3 separate regions of the Homo sapiens genome follow, and all the other regions are reported to be linked to region 3. Evidence: microRNA targets listed by miRTarBase, many of them from high-throughput screens and not tested one by one. Region 3 holds a microRNA gene; each other region holds the end of a gene's coding sequence.
What was found. The annotated mature microRNA hsa-miR-8065 reads UGUAGGAACAGUUGAAUUUUGGCU and lies in region 3 at 2,326-2,349, shown strand. An mRNA with a match to its seed (bases 2 to 7 or 8) in the 3' UTR can be bound and repressed. Matches are read on the target gene's strand: a 7mer-m8 pairs with bases 2 to 8, a 7mer-A1 pairs with bases 2 to 7 and ends in A, and an 8mer does both.

Region 1 (3,000 bases), not on the chromosome of region 3:
GCTGGGATTACAGGCATGTGCCACCACACCCGGCTAATTTTTGTATTTTTAGTAGAGACGGGGCTTCTGTATGTTGGTCAGGCTGGTCTCTTAACTCCTGACCTCAGGTGATCTGCCCACCTCAGCCTCCCAAAGTGCTGGGATTACAGGCATGAGCCACTGTGCCCAGCCTAGATATCTGTATATTTGAAGACTGGGCTGAATTTGTCTTCTAAAACATACTTTTTCTGATGATAAATGCATTTATAGTCTTTCCAAGATTCATTTTCTAAATATCATTTTTCTAATACTAGGGGAAATAAGATTTTCATAGCTGAATCCCTCTTTAAGAAGAGGGTCTGGGCTGGGCGCAGTGGCTCATGCCTGTAATCCCAGCACTTTGGGAGGCCGAGGCGGGCGGATCACCTGAGGTCGTGAGTTCGAGAGCACCCTGACCAACATGGAGAAACTACGTCTCTACTAAAAATACAAAATTAGCTGGGGGTGGTGGCACATGCCTGTAATCCCAGCTACTAGGGAGGCTGAGGCAGGAGAATCGCTTGAACCTGGGAGGCAGAGGTTGCGGTGAGCCAAGATTGCACCATTGCACTCCAGCCTGGGCAACAAGAGCGAAACTCCGTCTCAAAAAAAAAAAAAAATAAAGAAAAAGGGTCTAATATCAGAGATAATCACTGCTGCATCTTACAGTTCAGTCAAAATGAGGCTTCAGCTCTGCACTGTAAAGCCAGAGGGCACTGTTGCTGCCTTTCCAAGCAGCTGTTTTTCTGGGGCTGCTGCATGACGTCATAGCAGAAGAAAAAAACACGAAGAAAACTATTTCAAAATAAATGTTTAATATAATTTTTAGACCAAAGAAAAACTCAATCATACATTGTCTCCAGTGGACCATATGTGCCAGAACAGGACCAACTCAGTCCAGCTTTGAAGGCCCTGATTCAGTCCTACTGGTATAATCTCCCTTGATTTATTGATTTGTGTATGCTTCTTATGCAATACAAGGTGCATTTTACTCTTGAAGTCCCTATCACCTCCACCATCGCCATTTAACTGCAAAAGCATGCTTCCTAATGGGAGGGTTTTCTTCCCCCTTCCCTGCAGAGGTTCTGAACCTTCAAGGAGTTTGACAATCTTATGAATCTCTTGAACCTTCTCCCCAGAAAAATGTACATACAAGTCTACAAATAATTTCATGGGGTTCATGGACCCCAAGGCCCACAATGGTTTCTAAGGCCCCAAATTAAGGAACCTCTGTGCTAGTGATTTGAGCAACGCAATTGCCCTCAGAAGACACTGACACAGGGCAGGTGAAGGACTGGGTTAACCAAAATGACAGGAGGCAATCTCATAATTTCTGTTTTTATTTTGGGGCAAAATTTAGTTCTCAGGGCCTCCCTACGTTTAAGAGCAGAACTACTCAAGAACCTAAGCAGCTATCAGCATAGTTTAAGCGATTTAGAATAGGGCTGTGCAAGGGGATGTACAGGGTTCCTCATTCAGCTGAGGACCTCATTTAGCTCCTTAACTGGAAGCTTTACATTTGATCTGCAGTGAGGGGACATTTCTAATTTTAGTTTGACCCACATGGAAAGGTGGATAGCTTTTTTTTTTTGTTTTGGTATAGAGAGCACGTAGAATTGGACAATTAGGTAAATCCTTGGAATCCCCCAAACAGCCATTTGCTTTATAAATCCAGTATTTCTTACCTCTGAACGTCTTAAAGAGCTGCCTCACAAATTAATCTAACCATTGCTTGCACTAAGAAGTTTGCCAAGAGCCTCTTCCAGCCTTACTGGGGGGAAGGAAGAGATTACTGAAAACCAACTTGTAGGAATGAAATGAGGCTGTCAGTTGTCTAACCTAACAAACTGCCAAATTAGGTTTACATTTTTTGTTATTAGACTTTTGAATGGCCGAGGCAGAGTTAAATTTAAAATTTTGGATTGTAGCCACTTTCCACTCGCCTAAACACTCAATACCGGTTTGTTTATTTTTCCAGCATCAAGAAAGAAAACCAAGGCACTAGAAAGCAAGCACACTTAAGTATTGAAGATAATTACATCTTAAATTTTGCCTGAACTGTATATTGTAGCATACTTAAACCCATTCAAGGAAAAAATTGGCAAATTGAAAATTCTCCCATTAAAGATTGATATTTTTGCAAACTGACAAATTTAACGATTTCGGTACCCCTCCCCAAAAATGCAGTCACATAAAATATATCAATACTATTTTGAATTAGCTCTAGAAATCACACTGAAACTATGTTACATTTACAAATATTAAATTTATTATAACTAAAATGAATTTAATTGTTCTCAGATTTGGCCACCTTATAGCTCCGTTTAAGGAGGGGATTTGTTAAAAACAAAAATGCATTATAACTTGGTCAAATTACTTTCACATTAAGGAAAAAAACTTCTAAAAAGGAAAACAAGAAAAGCAACTCTTCAGTTTCACATAATTAAAAGAACAGGAGAAAGCACGCAAGCTACATATAGCTAAATTTACGAAACCAAAGCCAGGGGGATTTCTCTTCTGATTATGTGTCATAAAAAGGTCCACTGTCTTATATACACATGTATATAATGTTACATTCCATCACTGTAAAAAGTCCCCTTTGCCCCCTCCCCCAAAAAAGTTTCAGTCTAGTCTCCAAACTTGGAAAGCGGCGCTCGCTCCTGCTGCCGGTGCAGTTCGTTCTCGGTCAGCAGCTGGAGGTTCTCGGCGCGCAGCCGGTCCAGCTCCAGCTCCAGCTCCCGCACACGCGCGTCGTCGCCACCCAGCCGCTTGCTCTCCAGCCGCAGCCGGTTGTTCTCGTCCTCCATGCGCGAGAGGCACTTCTCCAGTTCCAGGTACTCCTTGATGAGCTCCTGCTTGCTCATGTTCTGCAGGCTCTCCGTGTGGTACCGCTCGTACGTCTCCGAGAAGTCCCGCTGCAGAAACTCGCTGCCGTCCCCTCCCATCCCATCGCTGCCCCCATCCTCCTCACCCCCTTCTTCC
Region 2 (3,000 bases), not on the chromosome of region 3:
GGGCTGATTTTTATTTGAGAGCACCAATGTTTGTGACTCTGTAGTGAAGGAGGCACTGATGAGGGTGGGTAGGAAGTTTTGAAAACTTGATACTGGAAGTCACTACATGAGGTATCTGTTGATGGAAGAGGTACCACAAGTATCGGAAGATTGAGAAAAAAAAGAGGAGTGAAAAACCTGGATTGTTGTGGGATTTTTCTGGATCTCATTGTTTTCACCCTGGCAGTTCTGAGTACATAACCTGCCCATGGCTGTTTTGAGGGAAATGTATCTAACTCTAAACCAGCAGTGAGCACTTACGATTAATAAATTCTTAAGAGACAGGCCCTATCACCTTAAAATCTTGAAGACTCTGCCCCAAGGCCTGATTCAAGGTACTTTTCTCAGGTGCTGAACCTGTCAGAGGCATTTGAACCAGAGCAACTCCATCTTGAATGGGAGCTGGGTAAAATGAGGCTGAGACCTACTGGGCTGCATTCCCAGATGGCTAAAGCATTCTGAGTCACAGGATGAGACAGGAGGTCAGCACAAGATATAGGTCATAAAGACCTTCTGATAAAACAGGTTGCAGTAAAGAAGTTGGCTAAAACCCACCAAAACCAAGATGGCAACGAGAGTGACCTCTGGTTGTCCTCGCTGCTATACTACCACCAGTGCCATGACGGTTTACAAATGCCATGGCAACATCAGGAAGTTACCCTATATGATCTAAAAGGGGGAGGCATGAATAATCCACCCCTTGTTTAGCATATCAAGAAATAAACATAAAAATGGGCAACCAGCAGCCCTCAGAGCTGCTTTGACTATGGGGTAGCCATTCTTTCCTTCCTTTACTTTCTTAATAAACTTGCTTTCACTTTACTTTATGGACTCACCCTGAATTCTTTCTTGCATGAGATCCAAGAGCCCTCTCTTGGGGTCTGGATCGGGACCCCCTTCCTGTAACAAAATCACCAGACATCAAGCTCTTCTACAATCTAATAACTCAAGCTCAATTCAGTGAGCAAGTTTAGTACATTCTCCTCCTCCCCTTCTCTGCCATGCTCTCAGTCCAGCCGCCATTTGTGTGTCTGAAAAGGAGGCTACGATGTGCTTTCTCAAGTACTGCACATGAAAGTGGGCCTAACGGCATGGCATGGACTATTTCTTATGGCCTTCATCTGGATTCTAACTATATAGAGGGTCACTCTGCAGATCTACCCAGGGCTGCCCTCAAGGTTATACAGGTCATGCTCTGTACAACGGCAGCTGATCAAGCGGTGAGGAGGTTGAGCCCCCACCCTGCTCCACTTGCCAGCTGAGACCCCTGCTCAGGTTGTATCCCAGAGAAAGGGGTGCCTTTTCTGATTCACCTTTGGGCGAAGGGAGGCCCTGAGTCATCCCTAACCCTCTCCCTCCCAGAAATTCCAAAATCTAATGTTCATCTCCTCATCTCCAACACTGTTGATGTCCTTTTAAGGAAGAGAATATGCACATGGCAAAGGCGAATTCATTTTGAAGATATGTTTTCTGCTCAGTGTGAAAGAAGAAGAAGAGAGGTGGAGGGAAACAGAGAAAAGAGAAGGATAAAACGAATGGTGGAGAAGTTGTGCCTCTGCCTAATAAATTGTGGATTCATTGTCCGTCTCTGGACACAGCTGCAAAGGAGCAGAAAATCAATTTTTTCTATTACTCCACTGTGAGGAAGGAAAACCTATTTGTAAATTGAATTAAACCCCATAATAGCATGTCTGTGTATTTGTTGAGGACTAGAAAAATTAGCCACAGATACAACTACATAACCCAGCAATGTAACTAGAAATCAACACTCTCCCATTTCAAAGCTTCGTTGAGACATTTTCTTTTCCTTTTTTAAAGAAACACCCATGGCTAAATGTCACTAAGATTCTTCGGCATGCCAACACTTCAACACCTCAATAAGGACTCTGGAAGGGAAGGAACTCCAAAGTCCCATCTGGGTAGAGCGTGCTTCCAAATTCTTGCCTTTGCTAGTTGAGTATCAGTCAGTCAGTCAATAATGATTGGATACGAACTAGACCCCTCTAGCTGATGGTTTCTTCCCAAGTCGCAATCTGTGGTGCTAACTGTGGAATAAATCCCCTGTTTCTGTGTGGGCTAGATCTTGTTCACAGACACCCTAACCCATCCACTCAGTACTGAACAATCCTGCTACTGCAGTCAGTGAGGGTCCTGAAATTTCATTAGCAGTCTGCCCTCTAGCGGAGAAACACAGTACTTCAGATTTTCTAGGAACAGAAAAGATTTTTTTTTTTTTCCTTTTTCTTTCACGGCGTAAAATAATTCAAGTTTTCCAGACAGTGCAAGGTGAGGCAGTCATCTTCAGAAGTCAGCTTCCAGAGCTGAGGCAAACAAGGCTCACATGGATAGGTCCCCAGGTCAGAGTTAGAGGCAGATGGTGCTGAGGGGGTTGTCCCTGCAGAGACCGCAGGGACAAAGGTCCTTCTTTCATCCTTTGAACCCTCCAGAACTCTCCTTGGGCATAAGCATTCAGTTCCCCACTCTCTCGTTATGCAAATAGGACCCACTTTAAGAGAAACCAGCATAACAGGGATGTTAAAAATCACAGGCTTTTGTAATTTTTTGGCAAATTATGAACACAGAGGAGCCTCTCGAAAAGGTCCATGTTAAATTCTTCAAAAGGCAAAGATTCACAAGTTTTATAAAAAGACCACGTCTCTGTGGCTGTTAATTTTAAGAGGAGAGTCTAGTTTGTGATGTTGGCGGGATATTGGTAAGGCAGAAGATAATCTTGGGATCTGTTGTTTTGGGTTTCGCTTCTGTCTTTTTAAAAAAGTCAGAACTTGGCTTGCTTCAGTTTGTCAATGTGGTAGCAGAGTTTCAGTGCAGGTCCCAGCTTCAGGCCCAGGTACTTCATGACCATGTCACTCTTCAGCAACAGCAGAGCGTTGCCATCAATCTCCTGGTGGGATAGGATCAGAAGAAAGATAAACCCAGAAGATGGTCAGAGTCATCGAACAG
Region 3 (3,585 bases):
GGACTTTGGGAGGTCAAAGTGAGTGGATCACCTGAGGTCAGGAGTTCGAGACCAGCCTGGGCAACATGGTGAAACCCTGTGTCTACTAAAAATACAAAAATTAGCCAGGCATTGTGGCACATGTCTGTAATCCCAGCTACTCAGGAGGCTGAGGGAGGAGAATCGTTTGAACCCGGGAGGTGGAGTTTGCAGTGAGCCAAGACCACGCTATTGCACTCCAGCCTGGGTGACAGAGTAAGACTCTGTCTCGAAAAAAAAGAAAGAAAAAAAGGAGAAAACTTTGGGACCTTAGACATCAGATGTGCCCCACCATCTGATTACAAAAGTTCTTCAATCTCTGCCTGCAGGCCACGTCAGGACCTTCAGAGCACTGGCGGGTGGCTTTCATGATACTCTTGATGGAAAGGACTGAAGTTTCCATTGATTGGTGGCAGTGCCCTCATCAACCAGCGTTTCCCAGAGAGAAGCCAAGCCGGCTTCTTATTCTTTTTCTATCCTGATGGACGTGGGCTTGTCATTCATACCCAGGCAGTATCTGGAGGGCCAGGCTCTAACTCTCGCCTTGGACTTCAATTGTTGGAAAAAAGGCAATGAGGGAGATAGAGTGTGTGGATGAGGAAGTCATTTCAGAGGGGAGCAACTTGAACTTTACATGTTTTAGTTTGCTGATGTTTAATGACCAAATATGTTTTTTTTAGTTGGTTTCTGATGTTATTTTCTCCATCTATTCCAAAACAGCTGCAGAATGGCAACATTTGACATTTAAGAAAGGGAAAGTGGGAGTGGTGAAGTGATTCCCCTTGGAAGGGTCGCACTTGTATCTAGAGGTTGTCCACAACAGATGGCCAAACCAGTCCCCAAAACGTGACTGTTGGCACTCAGAGGTGCTGCATCTACATTTGAAACAATCTAAAGCAAAGCAAAGAAAACTCAACCGGTCATTGAGTATGTCGGAATTTGCTCTGATGAAGGTGATGAGGTTGATGATGATGATGTTGGTGGCTGATGTTACTGGTCAGGGTCTTAGAGGCTCTCTCCAATCCTCATGCACATTTAAAAGTCTCTCTTCGGGCAGGCGTGGTGGCTTACGCCTGTAATCCCAGCATTTTGGGAAGCCGAGGCAGGTGGATCACGAGGTCAGGAGTTCAAGACCAGCCTGGCCAATATGGCAAAACTCCATCTCTATTAAAAATACAAAAATTAGCCGGGTATGGTGGCGGGTGCTTGTAGTCCCAGCTACTCGGGAGGCTGAGGCAGGAGAATCTCTTGAACCAAGGAGGCGGAGGTTGCAGTGAGCCGAGATCGCACCACTGCACTCCAGCCTGGTGACAGACCGAGACTCCATATTTAAAAAAAAAAAAAAAGTGTCTCTTCTATGTATCCATTACATTTTGACTTCAGTTTTAGGTAATTTATTGCAGACTCCTTTGCCCTTCTGCATTCATGTTTCCCACCTCCTAGAACGGAAGCTACTTGATCATTGCCTTCCCCTACCCTCATTTTTTGTACTTAGTATTGAGTTTTGGCTCTTAGGAGGTGCTTACTGAGTATTTATTCAATGAAGTGTCCAGAGTCTGGTGAAAGGAAGTTGAGCATTGTCTAGATGAGCTTTTCTCTTACAAAGTCAAAATTTGGCCAAAGGCAGCTCCCATTGTAGGATCATTTTCTGGGATGGACACTGGGGTGTTCACTAGGGTCAGGTGAATGATAGAGTGGAGACAGTAGAAATGGCATCCCCAAGTAGGAAAGAAAGGTTAAGCCTCCACCTGTTTGCTCTCTATAAGCTTCCGTCTAAAGATCTCACAGGAGGATTGGATGTCTGAGCTTTCTTTTCCAGTCCTACTTAAGCTAGGAAGCCAAGGAGGGCACAGAGGTACCAGAGGAAGGGCATCTGTGTGTGCCCAGAAGAGGCCTCTTCACAAAGGACACAGGATGCAGGTAAGCTACTTCATATGGTACCTATCACATGTATGCATTCAGTATACTAAAAATAATTATTATTCTGTATTAGAGACGATGTCATGAGACAACTAGCCACAGTCTGATGAACGAGAGTAAGGATGAATATGGGAGTTACACCTGCTGGGTTCCCAACCCACATCAATCTCTGTGTCCCTTGGGCAAGCCCTTTTACCTCTTGTAGCTGTTTCCTGGTCAACGTTATTTGACCCCCTTAAGATGGAGATGCTAATAGCTACCCTGTATGTTGTGGTGAGAATCAAATTAAGCAGATGAAAAGTGCATAGCATAGTGACAGCTCAGTACATGAGAGCCATCATTTTTGTTGTTGTTGTATTTTTCAGCAAGGCAAGGGCTTTGATGTCTTGTAGGAACAGTTGAATTTTGGCTTCATGTAATTACACACAATATCAGCGGTGATTTATCTGGAAATAGCACTCACCTCCAGGCCCTGTCCACGAGCCACCTAGCCCAACTATGTTTATTTGTCTTTTGTTTTGGAGCCTATAAGGGCATATTGGGAAGGTTTAATACAGCCGCATCACTGTGATTTAGTGAGCACTTACTGTCCCGCACATGCTGCTGTGATAACACTTTACAAAGTGGTCATGAATGAGCCTTCCTTCAAACCTGTGAGGTAGGTACTCTTCCATATAAGCTGGGAGAACTGCAGCACACAGAATTTCCGTAACTTTCTCCACTGTGGCTAAGAAAACTGGGCTGGGAACACAACCCAGGTCACCTGATTCCTGGGCTTGCAATCTTAACAACTCCTTTTTTTTTTTTTTTTGAGGTGGAGTCTCACTCTGTCACCTGGGCTGGAATGCAGTGTTATGATCTCAGCTCACTGCATCCTCTACCTCCCAAGTTCAAGTGATTCTCCTGCCTCAGCCTCCTGAGTAGCTGGGACTGTAGGCACCAGTCACCATGCCCGGCTAATTTTTGTATTTTTAATAGAGACGGAATTTCGCCATATTGGCCAGGCTGGTCTCGAACTCCTGACCTCGTGATCCAGCTGCCTCGGCCTCCCAAAGTGCTGGGATTACAGGTCTGAGCCACCACGCCCAGCCAACAACTCTTTTACATCAGTGCAAGTTGGAACATTTTGAAGCTCCCACTCTTCTCCCTGGAACCACACACTTCTGGTTTCTTTTCTCATTCCAAAGCATAGGTGCTCTTTTTGTAAAAAAACTTTCAATAGTTTTAGGGTTACAGGTGGTTTTTCATTACATGGATGAGCTCTTTAGTGGTGATTTCTGAGATTTTGTTGCACTCATCACTGGAGCAACGACTCTCTACCCAATATGTAGTCTTTTAGAAAATATTCACAAACTGTGTATCCGACAAAAGACTGACATCCAGAATCTACAAGGAACTCAAATCAACAAGAATAAAAGAAATAATCCCATCAAAAAGTGGGTAAAGGGCTGGGTGTGGTGGCTCACGCCTGTAATCCCAGCACTTTGGGAGGTCGAGGTGGGTGGCTCACCTGAGGTGGGGAGTTTGAGGTCAGCCTGGCCAACATCGTGAAACTCCGTCTCTTCTAAAAATACAAAAATTAGCCGGGCGTCGTGGTGCATGCCTGTAATCGCAGCTGCTCAGGAGGCTGAGGCAGGAGAATGGCTA

Region 1: the mRNA of HEXIM1 is a reported target of hsa-miR-8065. Seed matches in the 3' UTR shown: 8mer at 1,824-1,831.
Region 2: miRTarBase lists SCML4 as a target of hsa-miR-8065. Seed matches in the 3' UTR shown: 7mer-m8 at 69-75.

Annotation. Positions count from the first base shown.
Region 1 is chr17:45,149,916-45,152,915 of GRCh38, reverse strand. HEXIM1 (HEXIM P-TEFb complex subunit 1) reads right to left here. Exons shown (of 1, transcript NM_006460.3): 1 at 817-3,000. The coding sequence ends at 2,646. HEXIM2-AS1 (HEXIM2 antisense RNA 1) reads left to right here. Exons shown (of 3, transcript NR_186789.1): 3 at 1,997-3,000. Among named protein-coding and RNA genes, the nearest start is that of HEXIM1, 2.9 kb to the right of the region's middle. RefSeq lists an enhancer at 2,783-3,000.
Region 2 is chr6:107,702,385-107,705,384 of GRCh38, forward strand. SCML4 (Scm polycomb group protein like 4) reads right to left here. Exons shown (of 8, transcript NM_198081.5): 8 at 1-2,941. The coding sequence ends at 2,816. Among named protein-coding and RNA genes, the nearest start is that of SCML4, 120 kb to the right of the region's middle.
Region 3 is chr16:5,630,208-5,633,792 of GRCh38, forward strand. MIR8065 (microRNA 8065) reads left to right here and starts at 2,260; the gene lies at 2,260-2,359. It also overlaps a transcript of RBFOX1 not described here.